7 separate regions of the Homo sapiens genome follow, and all the other regions are linked to region 1. The links come from fine-mapping of genetic effects on gene expression. A gene starts in region 1. Each other region holds a variant in brackets. All regions are shown on one strand. Distances are between the middles of the regions.

Region 1 (4,080 bases):
GGGAGTCTCGCTCTGTCGCCCAGGCTGGAGTGCAGTGGCACAATCTCAGCTCACTGCAAACTCTGCCTCCCGGCTTCAAGCGATTCTTGTGCCTCAGTCTCCCAAGTAGCTGAGATTACAGGTTCCCGCCACCACGTCCAGCTAATTTTTGTATTTTTAGTAGAGATGGGGTTTCGCCATGTTGGCCAGGCTGGTCTCAAACTCCTGACCTCAAGTGATTGGCCCACCTCGGCCTCCCAAAGTGCTGGGATTACAGGCGTGAGCCACTGCACCTGGCCTTTGTTTGTTTGTTTGTTTTTATTTTAGAGACAGGGTCTTGCTGTGTTGCCCAAGTTGGTGTCAAACTCCTGGCCTCAAGCAGTCCTCCTGCCTCAGCCTCCCAAAGTGCTGAGATTACAGGCATGAGCCGCCACACCCAGCCAGCATATACTATTACTGCCTGAATATGCCGCTACCTCCTGACTCCTGCCTCCTGTCGGCTACTTGAAGCTTATTCTGACTTCCTCAGACTCGGCTGGGTGACTGTCTTCTGTGATCACCATTACAGGACCGGGAATCACTGAATTGTTACTTGCCTGTCTCTCTGACTGCATTGAGCATTCAGAGGTCAGGAACCTAGTCTATTTTTTTTTTCTCTGAATCTTCATCACCTAGCACAATGTCTGTTATAGACGAACAGATCTAAACTGAATCCAGGCCCTCTCCCCCTGATTCCACCCTGTGAACAGCCAGATTCGTTCGTGGGCACAATGGGTTCACTGCTGCCTTCCTGACTTTCCTTTTTCTTTACATCCTCACCTGAAATGCTGTTCTTTCACGTCTCTGTCTCCCTTCATGTCAGTCTCACCTGTTCTTTATGGTCCAGCTCAATAAAAACCCCTACCACTTCCTGAGCCCATGCCATGTGGGCTATATTATCATAGTTCACCTTCAGCAAAACCCCTTTAAGGAAGGCATTATCCCTATTTAACAGGTGAAGAAAATGATGCAAACAGCCCTGAGGTGTTGTTCAGAGTGTGGCAGATGAGACAAGACTTGCACACAAACACCCACAATGCAGGCAACCCGGGTTGCCTCCCTGTCTGCTCTGATCTCCGGTCTTCTTTGGTCCTCTTTTCTGTACTTCTGGAAGGCACTTTGGAGATCCTTTTGTCTGCTGCTCCACTGAGAATTGAGTCAACTAAGAATTGTTTAGGGCAACACAGGTGGTTACTGGTGGAGGCCAAACCTCAAATTCAGTAGTCTAATTCGGATGCTTGACTTTATTCCACACCCAGAATATCTTGCTCAGTTTCAGTTGCAGTAACTCAAGTGATCAGGAACTGTCCAGCAGGGTTAGTGAAGTCAGCACAGGTGGGGCAGCCTCTGTCCACAGCCCTGAAGCTGCAGAATTCTGACCGTGCACGGCCTCGGAGGATTTTCATCCAGGGATTGTCAGGGGGAAGTCGCTGGAGTGTTTTAAGCATGGGAGTGTGTGGAACAGATTTGAATTTTTAAAAGTTCATTGTAGAGAATTAATTGGGGGCTGGAGTGAATGGAGTGACGATTTAAGAGATGTTCGTGGTCCCTTCAGGTGAGAGATGGTGGCAGCTCGGACCGTGTTGCCGGAACATAGACAAGTGAACTGATTGGAGAGATACCTAAGGAAATAAAATTGTTAGGATTTGTCCGTGGACTGCCTACGAAGTATGAATCTTGGCTACAGTGTGACCTTGATTAAGACACTAAAGACTTAATTTGTTCCTCATGGATAAGATGATGCTACTACTTTGAGAGGTTATTAGTAAAAAATGAAAAGCGCTGTACATGCATTAGGTATCAGTGAATGTAGTTCTAATTCCTATTATGCATATGCTTTTTTTTTTTTCGTAAAGAGCTTTTAAAATACGGAATGGGTTGGATCTGCAGTAGCTTGTCCAAGCTGGGGGCTGTATTGTTAAATTCTTTTTAGTCTAGTGCTCCACTAGCTCCTCTCCTACTGAGCTGGGGTAAGAAGCGGAGCGTATACGGAGGAGGCGGGATGCATTTCTGCATCGAGCGCACAAAGGTGTGGCGGAGGGGGCTCCAGAGCTGGGAGGGGTCAATCTACGGGCGAATCCTGGCAATTTTACTCCCCGCGATAGATGACCTCGCGTCCTAGATGAGTTTCTAGATTCTAGAATCTAGAGGACGCGGTGAACAGAGACGAGTGGGGGCAGCTTCGCGAGCGAAGCCGGATGGGGGCGGGGCGGGTAGGCCGGAGGCGCAGAGTCTCCGCCGGGACCGCGACCCCGCCCCGCTTTCCGGGGCTGCCGCTGGTGACGTCGCGAGGGGGTGGGCCCGGCGGCCACGGGGGTGGGGCCGGCCGCGGGGCGGGGCGGGGCGGGACGGGAGGCGGTGCGTCGCTGAGCGCAGGCCGCGGCGGCCGCGGAGTATCCTGGAGCTGCAGACAGTGCGGGCCTGCGCCCAGTCCCGGCTGTCCTCGCCGCGACCCCTCCTCAGCCCTGGGCGCGCGCACGCTGGGGCCCCGCGGGGCTGGCCGCCTAGCGAGCCTGCCGGTCGACCCCAGCCAGCGCAGCGACGGGGCGCTGCCTGGCCCAGGCGCACACGGAAGTGGTGAGTGTCACCGGGGGAGGTGGAGGAGCCGGGGCGGCCGCGGTCGGCAGGCGAGGGGCGCGCAGCCCGGACTGGCCGGAGGCGCGGCCACCGCTCTTGGTCGGTCCTTAGGCTGCGCGGCCCGGGCTGCTCCTGAGCGCAGCTCAGGACCCCGCGGCTCGGGCGGGGAAGGCGGGGATTTCCAGCCCCGCGGAGCCGGCGGGCGGCGAGGAGGTCGCCGGGCGGGGGCCCCCGGCCGGGAGAAGAGCGGTTAAGCCAGGCCGCCCCCTCCCCCAGCGCGCACGGCAAGTTTTCATAAACAAGCCCGGAGCGCGCTGTCTGACATCCTGTTTATACCACCCCGAGATACAGGCGCGGGCTGGAGGGCTGACGTCCCTAGCTCCTTGTACCGCGAACTTGACCGCCAGCTCCCGGCCGGGGTGGCAGCGCAGAAAGGTTTTCTTCTTCGGCCCCAGGAAGGAGGCTGAGGGTCTTAGCTTTTTTCCTTCCTTGCGGTCTCAGCGAGGGAAAGTTTCTGGGATTTGGAGCTGGGTGTTGGGCGTCCGCGAACTCGGGAAACGCCCCCTCCCCTCTTAGGTTCTGTTAGGAACCAGGCCTCAGGTAGCCAGCGAGAAGTGGGAAAGGAGACCCTGGGCGAGAGGACCAGGGAAGGGGAACAGTGGGAGAGAACTACCCGGGGAATTGCGAATCCCACTGGAAAGGGACTGATTAACCGAAACTGGGGCTGGTCTCTGGCTCCCTCACTCCAACTCCATCCGCGCATCGTCGGCGACCGGGAGCATCGGAGGACTAATAGACACTCCTCCAAAGTCACTCCCCAGGGTCCCTGGGATGTGGGCTCCTTGGATGTGTGTTTACCACGGAACTTCTAGATAAAAGATGCGATGTTTGCCAGGTGTTTGTGCACACGTTTTTTGGAGGGTTTGCACTCCATGATTTCCTGTGTGTTCCTGGGGAAGGGGACCCCGTCCTTCCTGCCACTCTTCTTACTACGTGGCTGTGAGCTGCCTTCTGCCCCTGGTTGAGTACATCGCTATACATGTCATTGACACTTTTCCCCCCAAGTCATAGGGTTTTTCTCTCACTGGCAGGAATTTACAGTGGTATAAAATTGTCATTACTTCTTTCAGGGAGTAAAACATGGGTAGTTAAGTGATGAGAATAATGCAGAGAGAGATGTAAATCAGGGCGTGTTTGGTTTTGGCTATTTTTTTATTTTTTGAAGAAAAGATTTGAGTTAAATATGGGTATAGGCACAGTAGATTTTGTTTAAGATGAGCAATTCGTATTGATTGAATCTTTGTTCTTCCCTTTCCAAAACCCCATTATGTGTTGTTTCTTGATTTTGCTTTTGGTGACTCTGATGTTTTCCAAGACCAGGGGATTATTTTCATTGAAGGATCAATGTGTTCTTTTGTACTTTGTGGTGAAGATTAATGGAGACCACCAGGGTTCCAGACATTTCTGGTACAATATGCTTTGTAA
Region 2 (4,080 bases), 150 kb before region 1:
TAAATGTTAGACCGAAAACCATAAAAACCCTAGAAGAAAACCTAGGCAATACCATTCAGGACATAGGCATGGGCAAAGACTTCATGACTAAAACACCAAAAACAATGGCAACAAAAGCCAAAATTGACAAATGGGATCTAATTAAACTAAAGAGCTTCTGCACAGCAAAAGAAACCACCATCAGAGTGGACAGGCAACCTACAGAATGGGAGAAAATTTTTGCAATCTACCCATCTGACAAAGGGCTAATACCCAGAATCTACAAAGAACTTAAACAAATTTACAAGAAAAAATCAAACAACCCCATCAAAAAGTGGCAAAGGATATGAACAGATACTTCTCAAAAGAAGACATTTATGCAGCCAACAGACACATGAAAAAATGCTCTTCATCATTGGTCATCAGAGAAATGCAAATCAAAACCACAATGAGATACCATCTCATACCAGTTAGAATGGCGATCATTAAAAAGGAAACAACAGGTGCTGGAGAGGATGTGGAGAAATGGGAACACTTTTACACTGTTGGTGGGAGTGTAAACTAGTTCAACCATTGTGGAAGACAATGTGGTGATTCCTCAAGGATCTAGAACTAGAAATACCATTCAACCCAGCGATCCCATTACTGGGTATATACCCAGAGGATTATAAATCATGCTACTGTAAAGACACATGCACACATATGTTTGTTGTGGCACTATTCACAATAGCAAAGACTTGGAACCAACCCAAATGTCCATCAATGATAGACTGGATTAAGAAAATGTGGCACATATACACCATGGAATACTATGCAGCCATAAAAAAGGATGAGTTCATGTCCTTTGCAGGGACATGGATGAAGCTGGAAACCATCATTCTGAGCAAACTATCGCAAGGACAGAAAACCAAACACTGCATGTTCTCACTCATAGGTGGGAACTGAACAATGAGAACACTTGGACACAGGGCAGGGAACATCACACACCAGGGCCTGTTGTGGGGTGGGGGATTGGGGGAGGGATAGCATTAGGAGAAATACCTAATGTAAATGACGAGTTAATGGGTACAGCAAACCAACATGGCACATGTATACATATGTAACGAACCTGCACGTTGTGCACATGTACCCTGGAACTTAAAGTATAATAATAATTAAATAAATAAATAAATAAAAGAATCACATAGTTGGCCGGGGAACAGTGGCTCACGCGGGTAATCCCAGCACTTTGGGAGGCCGAGGTATGGCGGATCACAAGGTCAAGAGATGGAGACCATCCTGGCCAACATGGTGAAACCCCATCTCTACTAAAAATACAAAAATTAGCTGGGCGTGGTGGTATGTGCCTGTAGTCCCAGCTACTTGGGAGGCTGAGGCAGAAGAATCGCCTGAACCCTGAAGGTGGAGACTGCAGTGAGTCGAGATCACGCCACTACACTCCAGCCTGGTGACACAGTGAGACTCCGTCTCAAAAAAAAAAAAAAAAAAAAAAAAAGCCGGGCGCGGTGGCTCACGCCTGTAATCCCAGCACTTTGGGAGGCCGAGGCGGGCGGATCACGAGGTCAGGAGATGGAGACCATCCTGGCTAACACGGTGAAACCCCGTCTCTACTAAAAAGACAAAAAAATTAGCTGGGCGTGGTGGCGGGCGTCTGTAGTCCCAGCTACTCAGAGAGGCTGAGGCAGGAGAATGGCGTGAACCCGGGAGGCGGAGCTTGCAGTGAGCCGAGTTCGCGCCACTACACTCCAGCCTGGGCGACAGAGCGAGACTCCCTCTCAAAAAACAAAAACAAAAACAAAACAAACAAAAAGCAAAAAACAAAACAAAAGAATCACATAGTTATATGTCATCAAAAATAATTTTAATGATCTACTGTCAACCTTAATTAAGATTTCCTTCAGTTTTGTTGAAAACAAAATATTAGAAACCACCTGACTTACAAAAAGGCATTGATACCCAGTTATTAGAGTTACTCAGTTCTCAACGCCATCATCAATATTTCTAATTGCCTCTTTGTTTGGATATTTTTACCCCAGAGCAATGCACCAAAGTAAGCTTGAGATGGATGGAGTGCACATCTTTCTT[T/C]GCTTGAAGTAGTAGGTGGGTAGGAAGGTAGGAACAAAGGACCTGCATCTCCCTCAGTCCACTTTGTTAGGCAGATCAATTTAGGACCAGCACATATGGAAGCTCAGGATCCGAAAATTTTTATTTCTTTAAAACTATTTGTCTTAGTCCATTAGGGCTGCTATAACAAAATACTGTAGACTGGGTGGCTTATACATAACAGAAATGTATTTCTCATAGTTCTGAAGTCTTGGAAGTCCAAGATCACAGCCCCAGCAGAATTGGTGTCTGTGAATGCCAGTTTCCTGGTTCATAGATAGCACCTTCTAGCTGTGTCTTCCTGTGGTAGAAGATGTGAACGAGCTTCCTCAGGCATCTTTTATAAGGGCACTAATCCCACTCGAAAGGGCTCTGCCCTCATAACCTAATCGCCTCCCAAAGGGTCCCATCTCTTAATACTATCATCTTGGAAGTTAAGATTTCAATATATCCTTTAAGGGGGCATGAACATTCAGACCATAGTATTATCCTCACCTGCATCCCTCTTGGAAGTCTTCCTGACTCAGAGGAGGGTGTACACATATCCCCGTTAGAAGGCTGTTGTCTCTTTATATTTTATCTGGAGTTGTCAGGACTAGAAATAATAGATGTTGGCCGGGCACGGTGGCACACGCCTGTAATCCCAGAACTTTGGGAGGCCGAGGTGGGTGGATCACCTGAAGTCAAGAGTTCGAGACCAGTCTGGCCAACATGGTGAGATTCTGTCTCTACTAAAAACACAAAAATTAGCCAGGTGTGGTGGCAGACGCCTGTAATCCCAGCTACTTGGGAGGCTGAGGCACAAGAATTGCTTGAACCCGGGAGGAAGAAGTTGCAGTGAGCCAAAATCGCACCATTGCACTCCAGCCTAGGTGACAGAGCGAGACTCCGTCCCCCACCCACCAAAAAAAGAAAAAGAAAAAAAGAGAAATAATAGATGTTTAGTGCATAAAGCACACACATTATAACATCTAGTTATCCTGACTTTTAATTTTCTACTAACCTAGTTACTTAGAGTAGTAAGGAATCGGGAGCTGGGACTAGATCCATCCAGCAGGGATGACCAAGCCTTGTGGATTGACACAAATGCACATTCAGATAGAAGGAACATGGTCTGGCCATCAAAACAGTGTCCCCAAGGACTGAAAAAAAAAGGACTGAGACAAAATAGAATCAGGCAAAAGATCTCAGGACTGAGGCAGACGTCCTACCCACCAGGTAAGAAGATAATAAAGAACAGGACTCAAGAGTGGTGGTAACCAACTATGGAGAGGTCTACCAAAGCGCACAAGGGAAGTTACATAACTTCTGAATCAGAAGAATGCAGTTTGAGCCTCACCTCTGCAACCTACTTATTGACTGCATGAATTGTCGAATTGTCTCCTCAGCTCAGTTTTGTTTGTTTGTTTGTTTGTTTTTGTGAGACGGAGTCTTCCTCTGTCGCCCAGGCAGGAGTACAGGGGTGCGATCTTGGATCACTGCAACCTTCGCCTCCCGGGTTCAGGTGATTCTTCCGCCTCAGCCTCCTGAGTAGCTGGGATTACAGGCGCCCGCCACCACGCCCAGCTAATTTTTGTATTTTTAGAAGAGACGAGGTTTCACCATGTTGGCCAGGCTGGTCTTGAACTCCTGGCCTCAGGTGATCTTCCTGCCTCGGCATCCCAAAGTGCTGGGATTACAGGAGTGAGCCACTGTGCCCGGCCAGCCCAGTTTTCTTGAAGGTCAAATGGTAGTCTTGCATAGTTATAGTTTGGATTAAATACGATGGTGACATAGTGCCTGGCATGTAATAAGTACTCAGTAAGTGGTAGCCACTTAAATAGGAAACTACTGAACTACCCACATCTCCCAAACTTACCTACATCACAGTCCCTCTTATGCCATTCTTCTTCCTCTTGCTGGAAGAGAAGTCCCTGGTGGAAGAGAAGAATGGATCCACCACTGCTTTGAATCCTCACCTCTCAGTTATGTCCTCCTTTGTTTCTTCCACTTCTTCCT
Region 3 (4,080 bases), 40 kb after region 1:
ACTGGGAAAGCCAAGAGGAAGAGTTCTTGGGTCTCTTTATGCTCCTCTAAGCTATTTTTCTCTGCTGAGCAGTTAGGACTCCTGGAGGGGGCAGGAAGCTGTGTGCTCAAGTGACATCCTTTCTTTAGTTTTGTGTGTGCATATTTGTGTAGGCACATGAATGCACTCTTGTATACCTACTAGGTGCAGTGAGAGCTGGCTTCAGGGAGAAAGGGAAATGCGTGATTTTGGGGTCCCCAGCCTGAGCCTACTTTTTCTCGCAGTATTCTTTGTTCTGGAATCTTTCTCATCACCTTTTATTGCATGGAAACTTAATCTATTCAGGTCCCAACTTTCAGGCTTCTCTGCTCTGACAAGTACTAGAGGCCAATATGATAGACTAGTCTGAGTTAAAAGGTGGCAGTGAAGGAACCAGCTACCCCTCCCTGTTTTTGTATTATCATAAGCACCTCATGGCATAGAATGCTTTCACCCCAAGCGGCTGTTTCAGGGGCACTGGCAGGTTTGGAGGGGCATTGTGTTTTGAATAGTCAGTGCCTTTTGTGCCATTAAACTCCCATGGTAGAGAGACCCAGCCTTAAGAAATAAGACTGACCCTCCATAGGGCTGCTGCTAGTCTATATATTGTCTTTGTGAAAATTAGAAAACAGCATCTTGTCTGAGTGGGGTAGCCCTGCACCAGAGAGTGTGGCCTGGCTAGTAAAAGGCAGATTGGATTTCAGCCATCACTTTCTTACCTCAGTTGGGCATTCTTGGCAGTGCCCAACCTGCCCAACCATATGCTGTAGTCCTGATTCTACCTGCTATCTTCCAGCCAAATACAGGGGCTTTGTATTCTTTTGCATTATACAGATGTGTTCATTGTGGCTGCTTAATAGACGTTTGAGTTGATCGATACTCATCGTTGACCAAATAGAGAGAATGGCACTTTGCAGGATGTTTATTTCCTGCTGTCCCCATAGCAGCAGCAACCATCAGCAACCTGTTACCTTAAGGATTCTATAGTTCATTCATTTATTAATTCAACAGCTACTTCTTAAATACCTATAATGTAAAAGGAGACAGGGTACCAAGCTACAAAGAGCACCATCTTTGGAGTCAAATCTGGGTTTGAAGTTTGTCTTTTCTGTTGATTGTCTGTGTAATATTTGACAAATTATTAAACTTTCTGAGCCTCATTTATTCGTTCATTTGCCCACTTATTCAACAGATATTTATTGAGCATTTCCCTTGGCTGGATGAAGATGGAAAAAAAAGGAAGACAGACGCAGTTCTTTCCCTCATCTCTAGTGAGGATGTGGACACAAAACAAATACATGGATCAACACATAACAATTCTAGGCTGTCATAAGTGCCCTGAGGAAAAGAAACAAGGATGTGCTAAAATGAATAGGACCTGGGGAGTGGGGGGAGGGGACACGGGAGACCGTGCCAGAGAGACAGAGCTCTTTCTTAATAGGGTCGTCAGGGTACGCCCATCAGAGGTGAGCACATAAGCAGACCCAAAGAATGGTGAGGACCTGGCCTGCAGAGAGCAGTCAGGGCTGAAGAGTCAGCTTGGACAAAGGTGGGAAGTAGTTGGTATATTTGAGGACATAAAAATATGGACTTGGGGCATAATGGAAGACAAGGTTGGAAACAGTGATGATGATAACAGTAGCAAGCACTTGTTTAGTTCCTGCTATGTCCAGACACTGTGCTGAGTGCCTTCACATACATTAACTCTTCTAATGCTGACCAAAATACTACGGAGCATGTGTTACGATCATTGTTTTACAGATGAAGAAATTGAGGCACAGATGGGATAAATAACTTACCCAGGATTTCCCAGCTGGCACGTGGTAGAGCTGGGATTCAAACACACGTGTTCTGGTTCCAGACTGTGCTTATATCTGCTATGCTGTAGTGCCAGTGAAGGCTGGGTCATGCCAGACCTCAGTTTCGTCATCAGTAAAATGGAACTAATATGTGGATTAAACAAAATGTGTATAGAATGGCAGCCACATCAAGTCATAAGCATTCATCAGGTGGACTGTATATCTAGTGGTGGTGGTGGTTGTGGTCAGCATTGTAGGAAAATACAGGGGTGCATTAGGAAGTAACCCTCTAGGGAAGGGCCGTGTATACTGATAATCGTTAATGTAAGGAGGACAGGGGTAAGGGCCCTGAGGAAAGTGTGTGCATGAACAGTGCTGCGATGGCTCTGAAGTGGGTCAGTTTGTTCCACCTGGGCAGTGTGGAGCCACTTGGGGGTGGGGGGAGGGGATCCTGCTGTTGAGTCTGG[A/G]AAAATGGGCAGGAGTCACATATACTGGAGCAGGTAGGAGGAGCATTTCCTCTGCACCATCAGGTGAGCAAAGATCTAGTGTGTACTCAGAGTTGGAAAGTGGGGTCTGGAGACAATAGCACTGGCCGTAGGAGAGAGGCAGGAACTGGAGTGAAGATAGGTTAGAGCCAGCACTCACTGGGGCTTGATGCCATTGCGAAGCTTTCAGTTTATGCATCAGGGAATGTGTGGTCCTGGGGTCCACAGCTTGGTTTAAAGATCTAATTTGGGTATCTTCTCAGCTTTCTGTGACTCTGGCTGAGCAGCAGAGAGGAATTTTGTTTTGGCTTTTATTTGATATGCTATCTGTCATCTACCTAAAGGAGCCTGCCCACCTCCTGGGTTCATACAGAGGAGAGGTACCACTATAGTGGGAAGCTTTATGACCCCACTCCTCCAGACAGGTGGTTTTATAGGTGATTGCAAATAACTGGCACAGGCTTGGAGCTAGACAGATCTGGGCTGTATAATCTGGGCTTTAACAGCATTTGACCTTGGGTCTTGTGTTTGGGCCTCATTTAGTTCCCTGTAAAGTAGGGATTTATACCATGTCTCATTGTTATATAAAGGTCAAATAAGTGCATGACACTATGTGCCTGAAGAACATGGTAAGTGCTCAGATGATGTTAGTCGGAATTACTAGATTGCATGGTGTGGAAGGCCCAGTTACCCACAGGAAGTCAGTTTGAACCGACTAATTGTCTTCTCCCATATTTTTGAGGTCAGGAAGCCTAATCAGTTGGCAGGACTCATTGGAGCCACATTGAGATGGATTTTAAAGTCATTCCCAGGCTCTGTGGGACATCAGGCCATGATGTATACACAGTTTTCTTCTTCTTGTTTTATTTTTCCTTAAGGCTTTATTTTCTTAAAGCAGTTTTAGGTTTAGAGCAAAAATTTTTTTTTTTGAGACAGAGTTTCCCTCTTGTCTCCCAGGCTGGTGTGCAATGGTGCAATCTTGGCTCACTTCCTGGGTTCAAGCGATTCCTCTGCCTCAGACTCCTAAGTAGCTGGCATTACAGGTGTGCGCCACCACACCCTGCTAACTTTTTGTATTTTTTTTTTTTTTTAGTAGAGATGGTGTTTCACTGTGTTAGTCAGGCTGGTCTTGAACTCTTGACCTCAGGTGATCCGCCCGCCTCAGCCTCCCAAAGTGCTGGGATTACAGGCATGAGCCACTGCGCCCAGCCTAGAGCAAAATTAAGAGGAAGGTACAGATCTCACACTTGCATAACCTCCCTCATAACCAACATTTCCCACCAGAATGGTACATTTGTTGCACTTGATGAACCTACACTGACATCATTATCACCCAAAGTCCATAGTTTAGATTAGGGTCCACTCTTGGAGTTGTGCATTCTATGGGTTTGGACAAATGTATGATGACATGTACCCATCATTGTATCACACAGAGTATTTTCACTGCCCTAAAAATCCTCTGTGCTTTGCCTGTTCAGCCCCTGCTGACCATGTGTATTTGCTGTCCTGGTTTTAGATCATCATTATGGGGTTGGAAAAATAGCATCCTATAAAGGTGTTTGTGGCTTTAAGTGAATGTCAGCAGTTCTACAGTCCTGTCCAGTAGATGCCATCTTTCAATTTGCTGAAGATACTGATTCTGTTTTTCTGTTACTTCAGAACAAACAGAGGAATTTTAGAAGAACTACCACCCACTTCCTCAGACTTACTGAGCACCTGCTTAGGAGCCACACATAGTTCTAAGGTTGATGCATGACATACAAAGACAAGACCCTACT
Region 4 (4,000 bases), 130 kb after region 1:
CCTTATGAAACTGATTCCTACTCTACCTCCACCCACTTCCTGTTCTGATCCAATACTAGCCAGGGTATTTCATTTTCTAGTTGTCTAAATCAAAGTGGCAAGTAATATTTACTAATAATTGTATCTTATTTGCAAGCCAGCATCTACTCATGGTAGTGAAATTGACAGCTGATGATAATTTTTTTTTTTTTTTTTTTTTTTTTGAGACGGAGTCTCGCTCTGTGGCCCAGGCTGGACTGCAGTGGCGCAATCTCGGCTCACTGCAAGCTCCGCCTCCCGGGTTCACGCCATTCTCCTGCCTCAGCCTCCCGAGTAGCTGGGACTACAGGCGCCCGCCATCACGCCCGGCTAATTTTTTTGTATTTTTAGTAGAGACGGGGTTTCACCGTGTTAGCCAGGATGGTCTCGATCTCCTGACCTCGTGATCCGCCCGCCTCGGCCTCCCAAAGTGCTGGGATTACAAGCGTGAGCCACCGCGCCCAGCCCGATAATTTTTGAAAACAGTCATTTGCCTGTGGTTTACAGAGCACTCTGACTGTTATCTCAGTGAGTGCTTATGCCTGTGAGGTAGGTACACCATTGTTACCATCTCCATTCACTGCTGAGGATCTTGAGGCATAAGAGGTCAAGTAACATGCCTGTAATGAAGGGGCGAAGCTGGCGTCACCTCAGGGCCTCTGTCTCATATCCTGTGCCCTTGCCTCTCCCATGGTTCCCTCATTTGGCAGCCTCAGACTGATGGATGTTTTTTCTAAACAGGAGGAAATGGTATTAAGCTCATCATGGAATTTCTGCCTTCGGGAAGCCTTAAGGAATATCTTCCAAAGAATAAGAACAAAATAAACCTCAAACAGCAGCTAAAATATGCCGTTCAGATTTGTAAGGTAAAAAATAAAGACATCATGTTACAGATTAAGACATCAGGCACTCTGTCCTGGGTAATTGGTTTGTAATTTGACTCTAAGTGGGTAAGTTTATGATAATTATACTGTTTGTTTTTCTCTGCATTATTTAGATGAAAAGTTAGCTTCTACTAAGAAAGTAAACGGATTTAAATATGGTTATTTTAATGTGTATTTATTTGAATCAGTTTGTTCTTAATATTCTTGCATAAAAGTCAGAACCAAAAAAATTGTCAGTGATATGTGAATGAAATGACATTTCTATTTTTTCTGATGAAGTGATAGATAATACAATCTAAAGTGACTTTAGCAATGTGCTTGACTTTTACTTCTCTCTCTCAGGGGATGGACTATTTGGGTTCTCGGCAATACGTTCACCGGGACTTGGCAGCAAGAAATGTCCTTGTTGAGAGTGAACACCAAGTGAAAATTGGAGACTTCGGTTTAACCAAAGCAATTGAAACCGATAAGGAGTATTACACCGTCAAGGATGACCGGGACAGCCCTGTGTTTTGGTAACTGAATCAAACCACTAGGTTTTATCAATGCTTCATAGAGTTTACACTGTTTTAATAGGCCCTTTCTGGCTATATTAATGTGTCTCATTCCTCTGGCCTGACTCAAGGTTAGAGAAGGTTTAGAACATTTGGAATTGATTGATATTTATCTTCAAGAAACACACCTTTCAGCCTGTTTCATTGAAAGCAGCCTATATAAATGACTGAGCTTCATATGACACCGTCTTCCAAGGAATGAAAGAAATCTAACCACCAGCTCAACATTCCTAGCTT[T/C]CCAGGAGAGGGCATTCATCTGATGCAGTTCTTAAAACTGTGAGCAGGTGGAGAGAATCTAGTTCCTTTCTTAAACACATTCCTGCAGAGGGAGGCTGTAGGACAGAGTGGGCATTGCAGATTCAGGGAACTCCTGGACAGAGCAGAGCAAAACCTACGGGAGACCTGGCTGTCTCATGAATCACCAGAGGTTCCCAGGTTAGAAGGCCACACACTGGCTACAACCATGTCTCAGCCGGGAACACTGTCCAGGGGAGAGGCTGCTTACATCTCTACCGCACCCTGCCACGTAACCACATAACGACATAACCAATCAGCACTCCCCTAGGTGCATCCTACATGGACACAAACATAGACCTCTCCCACTTATGGAGCCTAAACTTACTCATTCATTCATTTAAGAAAATGCATCAAGGTCCTGCTTTGTGCCAGTACTGGAGATATGGTGAACAAGTAGGCCGAGTTTAGAGTTTAACAGGCTAGGCAGCCAACGGCATGGAGCAGGAAACATACAGAAGGGTTCGGGCTTGGTTTTCTGGAAGTCGTGAGTATTCAGAAGAAACCTGAAAGATTCATGCGGGTTTAGACAGACGGTTGCTAGACAGCATGCGTGACTAGGAAGAATGAGACAAGAGCAGTCGATTTCCCAGGAACTGAACCTCAGTGAGGTCAGATCATGGAATAGGAGGTTTGCAGGAGGAAGCTTGAGTCATGGAGCTGGGACTTCATCTCAAGAACAATGGGATGCTGCTGGAGAGTTTAAGGAGGGAGACTTTGTTTTAAAAAGACCACCACTGAATGAAGGGAACAAGATTGGAGCCAGGGAGTCTGGAGCCAGGGAGTCTGGAGCCAGGGAGTCTGATTTGGCTGCTTCAACAGCTCAGGCCAGAGCTAGTGACAGCATGAATTAGGACAGGGACTGGGAGAGTGACAGTAGGGTTTGAGAGAAGTGAGTAGGTTCAAGGAGTATATAAGGAGATTGGGTGCGGTGGAATGCCTTCATTTTTGGCTTGGGCAAGTGGGTGTCATTCAGCAAAGTAGGCAATGCTGGAAGAGGATTGGACAGCGATGCCACATTGTGCAGTGAGGCCACTGCTGTCTCATTTAGAGCCTGCAGGCAAATCAGACCTGGGGCTCATCATTACACGGCCACCTCCTCCCATACCCTGAGAGCATGTTCTCAGTGAAATGAAGAGCACAGACTTGGCGTGTTATTTTAGGGCAGATACGTGCTACCGAGAGCCTGTAAAGGATACCGTACTATAGGTCAGATGTGCACCATAGCAGCGTATACATGGTATGTGTAAAATATATAATACACAGTCAGATGCTGTATTAAATTATAAGAAAAACCGAAGAGGTGATTTTTCAGTTATCCTGTAATGTCGGATGGAGTGTGCCTCCCAGGAAATGAAGTTTTGTGTTCTGCTTCCTTTCAAGGTATGCTCCAGAATGTTTAATGCAATCTAAATTTTATATTGCCTCTGACGTCTGGTCTTTTGGAGTCACTCTGCATGAGCTGCTGACTTACTGTGATTCAGATTCTAGTCCCATGGCTGTAAGTCCTACTTTTCTCTTCATTTGAATCCAGTACCCATTTAAAATGTGTCCATCCCTCTGCTTGGTTAACTTTTGTTTTTAAATGGAATCCAATGAATGTATTATAATGGAAAATGTCACTTTCCCATTAACTTGGTTTGCTACTTGACAGTTATTTGTGAATCTCTAAAGTCTTGCTTTCACAACGAGCCCGGAGTTCTATAGGATGACCTTGACTCTCAAGGATCTTATCTGTGTAGAGATGAAGGGCAGTTTTATGGGAAAATGAGCAAGTTAAGTGGGGTAGCACTGGGTAGGGACCAGCCTTGTCTGTGCCTCCTTCATTCCTAAATCAGATCATTTTCTTGGGAACAGACTCCTTGACCAGCACAAGCACAAGGAGTGGTTGGTAGAGTCTAAGACACTGGTTAGAGACAGATCATTGAAAGCTAATAAGGATTTTGGATTTTTATTTAAAGTTACTAAGGAGAAAAGCCTTTTTATTGCTACTTAAATTTCCAGTTGATTGTAGAAATTTCACCTTAATCTGTTTGGCATTTATGTAAATACTTGCAAAGTTAAACGTTTTGTTTGATTTTATTTTATATAGTTGTTCCTGAAAATGATAGGCCCAACCCATGGCCAGATGACAGTCACAAGACTTGTGAATACGTTAAAAGAAGGAAAACGCCTGCCGTGCCCACCTAACTGTCCAGATGAGGTATCTATGGGCCACGTCACAGTAATAACACTCCATTTCTATTATGT
Region 5 (4,080 bases), 29 kb after region 1:
AGAGTTCATGCATTTTACCAGTAAGCCATGCTTTCCGCTTACTGCAAACTAGTGACTCCAAACTTCTGCAAACTGTGAAACTATTGTGAACTTGTGTGAATGTATGGAAGTTGGCACTGATTAGACGTTTGAACTTCTTTCCTTGTCCTGTGTTATGCATGGTAATCTGCCATTTGCTGTTCCTAGCTGTATGGTCACCCTTAGAGGTATGAGTTGTGCTTATATGTATATGTTCATGCCTAGATCTGTTGCTCACAGAATCATCTGACATCCCCATTTCGTTGAATCTAGGCAGCAGGGTTGATGGCAGCCAGAAAAGTGTGCCCTGGGGGCAAGAATGTCTTTAGGGAAAAATATGTTATTGTCTTTCAGATAGTAGTTCTCCAAACAGTTGCTCCAACAGTTCCTATGAAAAGATTGCTTGAGCCCAGGAGTTCAAGGCAGCAGTGAGCCATGGTCATGCCATTGCACTCCAGCCTGGACAACAAAGTGAGACCCTGTCTCAAGAGAAAAGAAAAGAAAAAAATGCTAGGTGGATCTTCAGTTTAGTTCAGTTAATTAAGTATTTTAATTATTAACTATTAATTATAACATTAAGAATGCCAGGGGAGGATAGAGACCCGTGATTCTGTTTTGGGGGGCACTAGAAAACAGTTCCTGAGACACTGGTGCTGCCATCTACCTCTACCCACATCATATCCTTATGTAGACATAAAATATTAAGAGAGACTTCATGAGGAGGCATTTCTCAGTTTCTTTTGTAATGAACTCTACTTTTAGTTGAGAAACATGAAAGTGTATGGTTTGGTGTTGGAGAACGAGTTTACTTACTAGTTTGATTTACAGTGAATACTGTTCTTGGGATTTATAAATGGTTTTAGTATTGAGAAGTAGAGGAGATAAATAGTTCTGGTGTCAAGGGAAGCGGAGCAATAAAATGAAGCTGAAACATGACCATTAAGCCCAAGCCAATCAGATCATCTGTGTGCCTTAATAGAAGGCTGATGATCTTGGTTCAGGTCTTCACTTAGTTCATGTAATAACATGGAATCAAGAGTTCAGACAAGTATAAATGCTTCTGGGTCTTGTTTCCTAACTAGGCTTAGTTTATAGGCCAGAAAGATTCTGCTACTATCCTGTTATTACTGGGGCAGTCATTGAAAAGAGCCTTTCTATTATAGTGGACTGAAGACATAAAATCACACAGTACATCTAAAAGGTTTCATCAAAGTTGTTCTTTACGAAAGAGTATTTTTTTATATCTTTGTATAATTGAACTTTTTTTTAAAAAAAACTTTTTTTTTTCAGCCATGAAATTACATTCTTTCTTAGCCTTAAAGACTTTGACATTCTCCTTTGGGAGGCCGAGGTGGGCAGATCACGAGGTCAGGAGATCGAGACCATCCTGGCTAACACAGTGAAACCCCGTCTCTACTGAAAAATACAAAAAATTAGCTGGGTGTGGTGGCGGGCACCTGTAGTCATAGCTACTTGGGAGGCTGAGGCAGGAGAATGGCATGAACCCGGGAGGCAGATGTTGCACTGAGCCGAGATCGCGCCACTGCACTCCAGCCTGGGCGACAGAGTGAGACTCCCTCTCAAAAAAAAAAGAAGATTTTGACATTCTCTGTTCAAGAAACTTTTACAGTGAGAGTAATTTAGTGTATCTCAGACAATGTTGGAGTGATCGATGGTTGGGTTTCCTTGTTCCAAGGTAGAATATCAAATGTTCAGTTGACTTGTTGATGGATCAGTTTGACCTCGCTTTAAGGATATGTCTGAAAAACTGAAATAATGAGGTCAACATTTTCCAGGTTTTTTTTTGTCATTCTATGATCGACTAAGTCTGCTTTGGTTTTCAGTTACTAATCAGTGTTCCACTAATGCCTATTTAGAAACTTTATTTTGAAATAATTATAGATTGACAAGAAGTTGTAACAGAGGGCCTGTGTTGTATAATTGAAGTTTAACAGTGATACGCTCCTTTCTTTCTAGAAAGGCTTTCAATTTATGGAAAAATTAGCAAAGGTAAAAGA[T/C]GCTCGGCGTTGGACCTTTGAAACTTCTTTCGGAATTAGTATTTTGAATGACTCCATACAACTAGAATAATGGCTGAAATTTCTATGGTGCTGGTCAGGACTGTGACTGTGGCCCGAGCATGAGATGATTTTCCTGGAAACCAAAAGTACTACTAGAAGGAGAAGAATGCTGTGGAGCTCTCTGGGGGTTGGAGCTTATGCCTCTGGAGACTTTGAGTTTTCTGTGGGTGTAAGTTTTGCAAATGGTCCTGGTAGCCCTGAAGCTAGAGTTGTCAAAGTAACAGGTGGTAGCTGGGAGCCAGCTTGGCAGTGGATCAGCTACCCAAATAGCCAAAGTTGCTCAATCTACATGAGGTCCTGTAGACCAAACTGGGGGTGGGGAGGATTAGCCCCATACAAATAGTTGATCCTTTTTTTTTTTTTTTTAAACAGTCATTTGAAATATTTTCTGTAAAAGGCCTAAGCTTTAGGCATTTAGGATGATTGTAAATGCACTGCTTTGTATTCTTTTTCACATATATTTGATTTATTAATATAAAATTGCCATTTTTGTACATAAAAATGGTCAAATATTGGCAGTTTCATATGGTACAACCTACTGTTTTCTGCTGTCACATTGGAAATTCTCACCAACGTGGGATACCATGTTTCAAAGAAACGTTGGCTTAGCCTCTTCATTTATGGAAGAAATATAGCACTTATGGTGTTCTAAGTAGATTAACTAACTTAATCTTTTTACAAGCAAATGAGGTAGGTAGGTCCTAGTGTTTTCCTGCTTTTTAGGATCACAGAGCTAGTAAGTGGTGGAGCTGGGCTTACACCCTGGCTACTGGTCACAGGGCTGTGCTGTTTCTCAGCTCTTGTGTTTGGCCTCACCTCTCCAGTCATACTTGTGAAAGTCCTGGGTGTCTAGACAGGTGATGGGTGAGTGACATAAGGTACCTCTCTTTGTCTTCATGGGAGAAATAACTGGATTTCCCCAAGAATGAATTAATTCTTCCACAATACAAGAGTCTTAGAGGTTTAACAAGGATACTTCTTTCAAGGTGCCCACCAATTCCTACCTTGCATTGGAGGGTGCACTGTGTCAAATTTGTATTTTTATCTTAAATACCAAATACTCTTAGAGTCCATCCATGGGCCTGTGGAGTTGAGGGTAAATGTAGAGGCTTATTTGGCCTAATAATGAAAGTATGGATAGTTATTGCCATGGAGGAGGAGGGTGAATGTTTTGTAGAGTCCATTCCAACCTTGAAATCCTGATTCTCTGATAAACTTCCACCTCTCCTCTGTTGCTTAATCTTTGATCTTGAGCCTGGAAGGAGAGGAGGCAACTCAGTCAATGAAGGAGTTTTATTTAGTAATTGCACATTGGCCTCTTCCTGCCGGATCCCATATTGACACTGGAGTAAGGCTAGAGGCTGGGAGACAAGGCCCCATGGGAGCTTTGTGAAATGGGGAGGGGCAAGGGTGTGTCCCTGGACCGTCTGTTTGTGGGGCAGCTGTCCTAGGTGTTGAGACACACACCGGTCTGTTCTAAGATGTTCCTACTGGATCCTGTCAGTTCGCCCTCCAGCATTCCTGGATTTATTGTGCACCATTTATGGCTCCACAGTCCACTAGATGAAATTGTAAAGACTCAATATGGTGGCTCTCCAGGGACTTTCCCTTTTCTTCTCCCTTAGCATCAGAGATGACCCGTCAGCGTTGCAAGCAGTTCTGTGGTAGCACATCAAGTATTCTGTCACAGCAGGAAAGGCTGGATAAACATCAAGGGACTGCCAAGACCAGACTTCTCATTCAGTCTGAGTAGGAGGAAAGAGGACAGGTTGTTGGAGAGTTGGTTTAAAGATGAATTATGGGCTGGGTGCGGTGGCTCACGCCTGTAATCTCAGCACTTTGGGAGGCCGAGGCAGGCAGATCACGAGGTCAGGAGAGTTCGAGACCAGCCTGACCAACATGGCGAAACCCCATCTCTACTAAAAAATACAAAAATTAGCTGGGCGTGGTGGCACACGCCTGTAATCCCAGCTACTCAGGAGGC
Region 6 (4,080 bases), 200 kb after region 1:
GATAGACTGGATTAAGAAAATGTGGCACATATACACCATGGAATACTATGCAGCCATAAAAAAGGATGAGTTCATGTCCTTTGCAGGGACATGGATGAAGCTGGAAACCATCATTCTCAGCAAACACAAGAATAGAAAACCAAACACCACATGTTCTCACTGATAAGTGGGAGCTGAACAATGAGAACAAATGGACACAGGGAGGGGAACATCACACACTGGGGCCTGTCGGGGGGTGTAGCGGGGGAGGGATAGCATTAGGAGAAATACCTAATGTAGATGACGGGTTGATGGGTGCAGCAAACCACCATGGCACATGTATATCTATGTAACAAACCTGCACGTTCTGCACATTTACCCCAGAACTTTAAGTATATTAAAAAAAAATCCTAATACTTCTCATCTTCCTTTATTCCCTATTTTAGCTGGTCACACAACACCCAGAAATTGGAAACCTGGGAATTAACCTAGACTCTGTCTCCCTCATTTCCCATATAAAAGGAATCCTCAAATTCCACCCGTCTAATAGGTCTTGAATCCATCCCCCTTTCTTCAGTCCTCTAGCTTTTTCTTTTTTTAATCCTTTCTCCACAGTGACAATAAAGTGATCTCTAAAAAACAGAAGTTTAATTGTGCCTGTTTACTGCCTTAAATGCAAAGGTTTGCTATTACTCACAAAAAAAGCCAAGTGCCAGATTGGTAATCATGCTCTACAATGCCTGCTATATCTAACTCCAGCCTTGTTAACTGCCATACTTCCTCCCTTCCCCAACAGCTCTTTATTCTCCAAGAACACTGAAATATTTGTAGCTCCCTGTAGAGATCCAGTTATTTCAGGTATCCATATATTACACATTTAATTCCCTTGCCTATAAGATCACTCCCCATACCTTAGGATACCTAGAACCTTTTAGCTGATTTTCAAATTCGTCCATGCATTACTCCATCATGATCTCCAGGAAGCTTCCCTGATCCTCTCTTAGAGTTAACCATTCTTTATTTTTTTATACCTCTCTATCTTGAACATTGCTCGGATTATTGCATAGATCACATCACATCGTAATCTATTTGCTTAGATGCCTGCTACCCTACTAAACTGTGAGCTCCCTAATTCCACCAACTATCATGGTGCATGACATATGGTAGAAGCTTTGTGTTAGATGAATGAATAAATAAATGCATATATAAATCAACTAATAATTTAAAAACTGAAAATCTCTTTGTCCTTTTCTTAGGTATCTGCATTTGCTCAACTTAGGTTTTATGGAAGAATTTAAATAACATAATGAAACAAATTTAAAAGTTCAGACAGTAGGGAAAGGAGGTCACATTTTCTGTTCTATAGCTTCTTCCATGTTTTTCCAAGGCCACGAATTCTCTAAAATAATAAAAAATAAAAAAATTCACATACTAGTTCTCATAGAAATGGTAGATGTCACTCTACAGAGAAAAGGCTGTAAGGGAATTTGGGATTAATTACATTACCATTTTCCTTGTGAAATTTAAATATCCCACAATTGATCCCAATTCTTTTAAAAGTCATTGCATGGTCTACTATTTAGTTTATTATTGGGTCTAATTTGAAGGCAAGCATGTGCCAAAACTTTTTCCCCTAATGTATCCTATTTTACTATAATAATTTCCTCATATCTACCATAGGAAGCTCTGGTTGCAAGGTTATAGTTAAGAATTGCATCTTTTATCAACTGAGTTATTAATTATATCTGTTTCCACGAACACCACTATAGGTTCCAAAATCCAAGGCAAAATCATTTAATACAATTAATGATTTCTGTGTTGTGTGATTTTAACAGGTGATTTAAGGTTTACAGTATACATCTTTAACTTATCACAGTCAATTGTCAAACGGTATCACACCACTTCATGTACTGTATAAGAGACTTCAAACAGTGCAATCCCATTTCTCCTCTCCCAGCCTTTGTATTATTGCTGTTACACATTTTATTTCTACATGTGTTACAAATCTCACAATGTAATGTCATTATTTTTGCTTTTAACAGTCAATTATACTTTTAAAAGATTTCAATATTAAGAAAAAAGTCTTTACCCACGTAATGACCATATCACGTATTCATCATTTTGTTGGGTAGGTCCAGATTTCCATCTATAATTTTCTTCCTGCTTGTAGGACTTCCTTAAGTATTTCTTATAGTGCAAGTCTAATGGTGATGATTCTTTTAACTTTTGTATGACTGAAAAACATCTCTATTTCATCACTGTTTTTGAAAGATATTTTCAATAGGTTAAGAATTCTATGTGGACCTGTTGTGTTTTTGTTTATTTTGGTAAAGAATGAAAAGATGTTACCCTACAGTCTTTTCAATTGTGTTGTTTCCAA[GATCTAT/T]GGTCATCTTAATCTTTGTCCCGCTAAATGTATTAATGATGTATACTTTTTTTCTGGCTGCTTTTAAGACATTCTATCACTAACTGTAAGCAATTTGATTACAACGTACACTGTAGTTTTCCTCATGCTTTTGTACTTGAAGTTGGTTGAGCTCTGTGGATTTCTGGGATTAGAATTTTCATCAAAATTTTAAAACTTTTCAGCTACTAATTCTTTAATTTTTTTTTAACTATTCCTACCCCCAGGGACTCTAATTGCTCTTGAAGCTGTCCCACAGTTCACTGATACTCTGTTCATGTTTTACAGTCTTTTTTCTCTCTGTGTTTCATTTTGGATCACTTACATCATTGTTTTCAAGTTCACTAATTTTTTCTTCCACAGTGTCTATTCTGCCATTAATCCTATCCAGTGTATTTCATGTCAGATGTTGTAATTTTCATCTCCAGATGTTTGATTTGGATATTTTATATCTTCCAAGTCTCTATTTACCATGTTCAATCTTTACTATAACTTACTATATATATGGAACACTATTATAAAAACTGGTTTAATGTCCATTTTTATTAATTCATCTGTGTCAATTCTAGGCCAGTTGTGATTGATTTTTGTCCTCGTTATACATTAGGTTTTCCTGCTTCTTCATCATGTCTGCTACTTTTTTATTGGATGTCTGACATCATAAATTTCACTTTGTTGGGTGTCAGATGTTTTGGATGCATACAAATATTCTTGAGTTTTGTTCCAGGATGTGGTTAAGTTATGAGGAAGCACTTTGATCCGTTCTGGTCTTGTTTTTAAGTTTTGTTAGGTAGGACAAGAGCATCATTGGTCTTGAGTTACTTTTCCCCATTCCTGAGCAAAAACTTTCTGATTATTACTTCTAATGCCCCATGAATTATGAGGTTTATCATCCTGACTAGTGGGAATAGCACTATTCCTGGCTCTATGTGAGCTGTGAAGGCTGTTACCTCTAATCCCGTTGTCAATATCTGTAACATTGAAATTGTGCACACCTATGACTCAGAGCTTCAGTTATGGAGAAACAGTTGAAATGTATATTAGTAATCAACTAAAAGGCTATTCATTGCATCACTGTTTGAAATACTGGGAAAGGTAAAGCTTCCTGAATGCCAGTCAGTAACAAATACATTAATCGTAATAAATTCACATGATAATTACATGTAGTAGCTTAAATCAATGAACCTGAGTTATATATATCAATGTGGAAAGATCTGAAAAACAATGTTGCGTTAACCCAAAAAAAGCAAGTTGCTAAATGAAATATACATTAGAATGCCATTTATGAAAAGTTTAAAACAGAGACTACCATTAATTATATATAGGCACATATGGTAAAATTATAGGTTAGTCAAGATACTGTGGTAACAAACTTCTGCACAATCTCAATGGCATAACAAAACAAAAGGCTTTCTTCTGATTCATGCTGCATATCCCATGCTGAAGGTAAGGAAGGAAGGACGTTTTGCTCATTATAGTCACTCTGAGACCTAGGTTGAAAGAGGTTCTGTTACTTCCCCAATTACTTTAGCACAGGGAAGTGTGAGCAGGAAATCACATGCTGGCTCTGAAATCTTTCACCTGGAAGGGATACATGTCATTTTCACTCTCACTTCATTCATCAACAAGCAAATCACAAGTCCACTCTCAACTTCAAAGAGGCACAGGTAAGTACTATCTTACCTTGTGCTCAGAAG
Region 7 (4,080 bases), 140 kb after region 1:
CAATTTGCTTACATAGAAAAATAACAGTATAGTTTTGGGGGGAGGAAGGGGTGGGTTACGGTCCTTACTACTAACAAACAAACAAACACCACTTGATTTGCACTTCTTCACTGTTGTGCCCAGTGATTGATAACGGGGCACAGGCCAGTATGGATGGCATGTCCACTGTGCTGTAGTCCAGACACCTTTGTTTGTTTGTTTTAGTTCCTTCAACCTCTTCCTGCTTTGACTGACTGACTTTTTGCAGCTCTGTTGCAAAATTCACCATCTTTCCTTTCTTCTGTTTGTTTGTTTGTTTGTACTATAGTGGAGGTGTGACTAAGCATTGAAGAGGCTGAATGCAACAGGAAAATGGGAAAGAGAAGTGCAGGGCCTGAAAAACCCATTAGTCATCTGCTATATCACTGAATGATGCCTAATTCTTATCAGTTACTTATAGGTAGTATACTTAGAAATTACCTTAAACTTTCTAGCTGTCAGTCATTTTCCAACAGAAGCTAGTATATGCAATAAATTAGACCAAGTGAAATTCTTTACAAAGCATACAACATATGTACCAATTCTAGACTTCATAATTAAAACAGGATATCCACATCATAGTTAAAAATAACAAGTCCCCAAAGTGACGAGATATTTAATGATCTGATTTCAAAAAGCCCCGGATTGAGATCCCAAATTCCCTATCAATTAATTACAGTCTTATAACATAAACAAACTTAGAAATTTCTAGATGGCAAAAGGTTTCTCATGCATTTAATACCAAGGTCTTCAAGAAATGGTGATGTCAAAAGTCATCATAGTCCATAAAGATAAAACTTCTTTCACAAGTAAATTGGGTTAAATAACTGATTTTTCACCCTAACACACTATCAAAAAGAGTGAGAGAGAAAGCAGAGAGTGAGGTATAGCTTATTAGCTCAAAATGGTTATAAATACTGTGACTCCTTAAGACTCCATCAGAAAGTGCAGTATTGACTGCTTTACTATACTATATTGTGGAAATAATAGGGCATTTAGTGATCAAAATAGGCCCCATTCTAGTCATTAGATCATTACTAGTCTACGCTATGAAATGAGCACAGAAACCCATGTTCCTTTCCACTTACAAGTCTGTCTAAAGGCTAAAGGTCTGTCTTTAGGTGAATTGAAAGGAATAGTTGCTATTAGAATTAGTGCTATTAGATCAGGGATCAGCAAACTATATATAAATGGCCAGATACTTGAAATTTTAGGCCATATGGTCTTTGTAGGCCATACAGTCTCTGTTGAAGCTAATCAGTTCTGCCCTTGTAGCGTAAGAGTGCCACAGACAACACGTAAATGAATGAGCATGGCAACGTCCCAATAAAAGTTTATTTATGGACACTGAAATCTGAATTTCATATAAATTTCATGTCATAAGTTTTCTTTTTTCCTCCAACCATTTAAAAATGTAAACATTAGTCTTAGCTTGCAGGCAGCACAAAAGCGGGTGGTAGACCAAATGTGGACCCAGGGTGTAGTTTGCCAAACCCTTTTATTAGATCACCAAAGTTACTTTTCTTAAAATACCTTCTATTTTTCACAGAAGGTATAAATGGTAAACAACATCTTAAAGCATCGGTAGTAGTGGATACCTTGGA[T/C]ATCACTGTCACTCTCTTACCGGGTTTAATTTTGCATGGCTGGTGTGGGCGTAATTGAGTGTGCATGTAGAGCATCTTTATAATATTACCATCAGCACATTTGGTACTTGCACCCTTGTAGTTCTAGGAAAAGTCCTAAAAATCTATAAATGCAATTACTTCTAGGGAAAGTAAATTGAAATGCACATTGGCTTATAAGAAACTCATTCTTCTAAGGCTCAGGAAACAACACTGTTTCCCATTTATTGCTTCAAACTTCTTTTATATATGGTGTCAGAATTATTCCCAGTCCTAAATCAAGGAATATTGGAACATTGTTAGTTTCTCCAATGGATTGTAAGTTAGCACACTGATTAAGATGCATCTGACTCTAGTGGAAAATGTCCTCAATTGATGTCTCTTCTTATTGCTATTTTTTATTTGGCATTTCTGCCTGCTGCACAACACAGTTCCTTCTGGGAAACTATAAACCCGTATTTAAAGGATATGGCTAGTTTGAATGAAGTTAAGGCAGCGATGAACAGCAGAGATACTGCAGAGAACCTTAGGGGGTTATTAGGAGAGAGCTTAACTCAGTATACTCGCTTCTTTTTTAAGTAAGTTTCCATGTAATATGCTCCTGTGCCCTGAGAATGCTGGTCAACACATTCCACTGAACCACCTTCTGGGGCAGAGATGAGATATGATGAGCCTCGCTTTTCATTTCTTAAAGATGACACCTATGAGAAAATAAAATTGCAGCTAGTTTTAAAATCTAAAGTTGGCTTATTCATTAAAGATATTTATAAGAAAAGCATTCCACTTTGACTTGGTGAATATAGAATAACAGGATAAATACCCAAACTATCAAAAAATACACAAACCCCTTTGTTAAATAAGACTTTTAAATTTCTGTATCAACATCGCCTTTGGAATTTCTGCAAGACACAAACCAGTCTCAGCACCTTCACTCCCAACCCCAACTTTTTGGGAAAAGAAAAAATTAGAGCACTGCATGCAGCTGCTTCTGCTGATCACAGCTAGTTAAACCCACGGACTCAGAATATCAACACCGAATGTCAGTATTCCTCTGAAGGAGGAGTGGCTAAGACATCAAGCTGCATATTGAATTAGATGTTAAGTGTGCCTGGTGACAAGAGGAGTGGTGAGAGAATAAATCAATAGGTGTAGAAACTGACAAATGACATCAAAGAAAACAACATGAAACATTCTAGAGAGCAATGGGAAACTCAGAGCTTTGGTCTCCACAATAATCGCCTGGCGAGCATATTAAAATGCAGGTTTTCAGGCACCATCCCAGAGATTCTGACCTGAAAGTGGGCCACATGTCCTCACAAGTGGTCACAGTGATCAGCACAGTAAATCAGATGGTGTAGCACTGCTCAGCTTAATGCCTCTTAGTTTCAGCTTTTACAAAAATAAGTGCAGCAAGCTTTTATCAATGCAGAATTATGTGACTTAATATGCAAGAACTTAGAAATGACTGATGAGTAAAGCTTCCAGTAACACACAGGAGCCTTCTCACGTTGCAATTAAAACTGCAATTGTTTTTGAACCAACAACGGTCACAATTTTTAAAAGTGCAGCCAGCCTCAGAGGGAACAGATGATAGGTCTCTCTCAACTCCTTGCTAAAGTAGTTCTCAGTGGTCCATGTTAGAGGGATGACAAGACTGAAAGAACGCTGCGTCCTCTGGTATCTCATTTCAAAGTGGCTTACTGTGGGGACAGACCAATACAAAGCGTCTTCACACAAGCCCAGTGTAAAGGAATGTTTCACAGAGTGAAGCTGATGGGCAAAGAATCTGGCTTGAATTTCTGCCTCGACATTTTTTTCCTGGTAGTAAAGTATGTCTGGGGTTTGTGCTAGAATGTTAGAAGGGAAGCAGGTGAGAGGGTAGATGAAAGGAGACCTGCCGTAAGTTGATAGTTGTCAAAGCTGAGTTGATGGTGACGAGGGGTTCAGCCCTAGAGAAGGGCTGCTGCACCAAACAGCTTGCTCACCTCTTAGGTGGAGCCTCTGCCCCAAAAACCCTTCCTCCCAGTCTCCAGCCTCTTGGTTATTCTCTCCAGCTGCCTTCTTCATTAGGGCCCCTTCGCTGGTAGGTGATCTTTCTGAATGTTGGACCCCAGCCACTAACACCATCAGACCTTACTTCAGGTATAAAGAACTCTTTTTAGCAGCTTTCCTCCTCTTAGAAGTCATCAGTCCATTCTACAAGTGAGATTTTCCAAAGACTGGGGGAGGGAAGCAGACTGCTCACTCTGGGATCTGGGATGCTCCTGCTCTTCTCACCCACCTTCCCCAATTCTTCTTGCCATGTAGTTATCTATTCTTTCATGTCTTGGCATGCAGCAAAGCAACAGCCTGGGTTTCTGTCTTTCTATACCATCTTCACTGTCAGAAGCCAGATAGGAAATTTATTACATTCTTTTATTCAAAGGGCTTCCCAATGGTG

Direction of the effects. Positions count from the first base shown, and alleles are read on the strand shown. Sizes are in standard deviations (SD) of each study's normalised expression. Not every link is listed here.
As copies of T replace C in region 5, the expression in thyroid of the gene that starts at base 2,379 in region 1 goes down (small effect, 0.33 SD a copy in GTEx).

The links. PIP is the estimated chance that this variant, and not a neighbour inherited with it, causes the effect. A credible set is the group of variants that fine-mapping cannot tell apart.
Region 2: its variant is the best candidate, but not a certain one, in a credible set for the expression of JAK1 in neutrophils (BLUEPRINT, PIP 0.89).
Region 3: its variant is the best candidate, but not a certain one, in a credible set for the expression of JAK1 in cerebellar hemisphere (GTEx, PIP 0.56).
Region 4: its variant is the best candidate, but not a certain one, in a credible set for the expression of JAK1 in whole blood (INTERVAL, PIP 0.71).
Region 5: its variant is the best candidate, but not a certain one, in a credible set for the expression of JAK1 in thyroid (GTEx, PIP 0.58).
Region 6: its variant is the best candidate, but not a certain one, in a credible set for the expression of JAK1 in blood mononuclear cells (TOPMed, PIP 0.58).
Region 7: its variant is the best candidate, but not a certain one, in a credible set for the expression of JAK1 in whole blood (INTERVAL, PIP 0.76).

What each region holds. Positions count from the first base shown.
Region 1 is chr1:64,964,848-64,968,927 of GRCh38, reverse strand. JAK1 (Janus kinase 1) reads left to right here and starts at 2,379. Exons shown (of 25, transcript NM_002227.4): 1 at 2,379-2,595. RefSeq lists a silencer at 2,155-3,034.
Region 2 is chr1:65,119,228-65,123,307 of GRCh38, reverse strand. No RefSeq gene overlaps it. Among named protein-coding and RNA genes, the nearest start is that of AK4, 27 kb to the left of the region's middle. The variant T/C (reference allele first, on the strand shown) is at 2,065.
Region 3 is chr1:64,924,548-64,928,627 of GRCh38, reverse strand. All of the region lies in intron 1 of JAK1 (Janus kinase 1), which reads left to right. Among named protein-coding and RNA genes, the nearest start is that of JAK1, 40 kb to the left of the region's middle. The variant A/G (reference allele first, on the strand shown) is at 2,285.
Region 4 is chr1:64,835,349-64,839,348 of GRCh38, reverse strand. It overlaps JAK1 (Janus kinase 1), which reads left to right. Exons shown (of 25, transcript NM_002227.4): 21 at 760-884; 22 at 1,245-1,417; 23 at 3,134-3,251; 24 at 3,843-3,953. Among named protein-coding and RNA genes, the nearest start is that of RAVER2, 92 kb to the right of the region's middle. The variant T/C (reference allele first, on the strand shown) is at 1,694.
Region 5 is chr1:64,935,418-64,939,497 of GRCh38, reverse strand. All of the region lies in intron 1 of JAK1 (Janus kinase 1), which reads left to right. Among named protein-coding and RNA genes, the nearest start is that of JAK1, 29 kb to the left of the region's middle. The variant T/C (reference allele first, on the strand shown) is at 2,037.
Region 6 is chr1:64,769,499-64,773,578 of GRCh38, reverse strand. All of the region lies in intron 2 of RAVER2 (ribonucleoprotein, PTB binding 2), which reads right to left. Among named protein-coding and RNA genes, the nearest start is that of RAVER2, 26 kb to the right of the region's middle. The variant GATCTAT/T (reference allele first, on the strand shown) is at 2,360.
Region 7 is chr1:64,829,100-64,833,179 of GRCh38, reverse strand. RAVER2 (ribonucleoprotein, PTB binding 2) reads right to left here. Exons shown (of 12, transcript NM_001366165.2): 12 at 1-2,341. The coding sequence ends at 2,195. Among named protein-coding and RNA genes, the nearest start is that of RAVER2, 86 kb to the right of the region's middle. The variant T/C (reference allele first, on the strand shown) is at 1,623.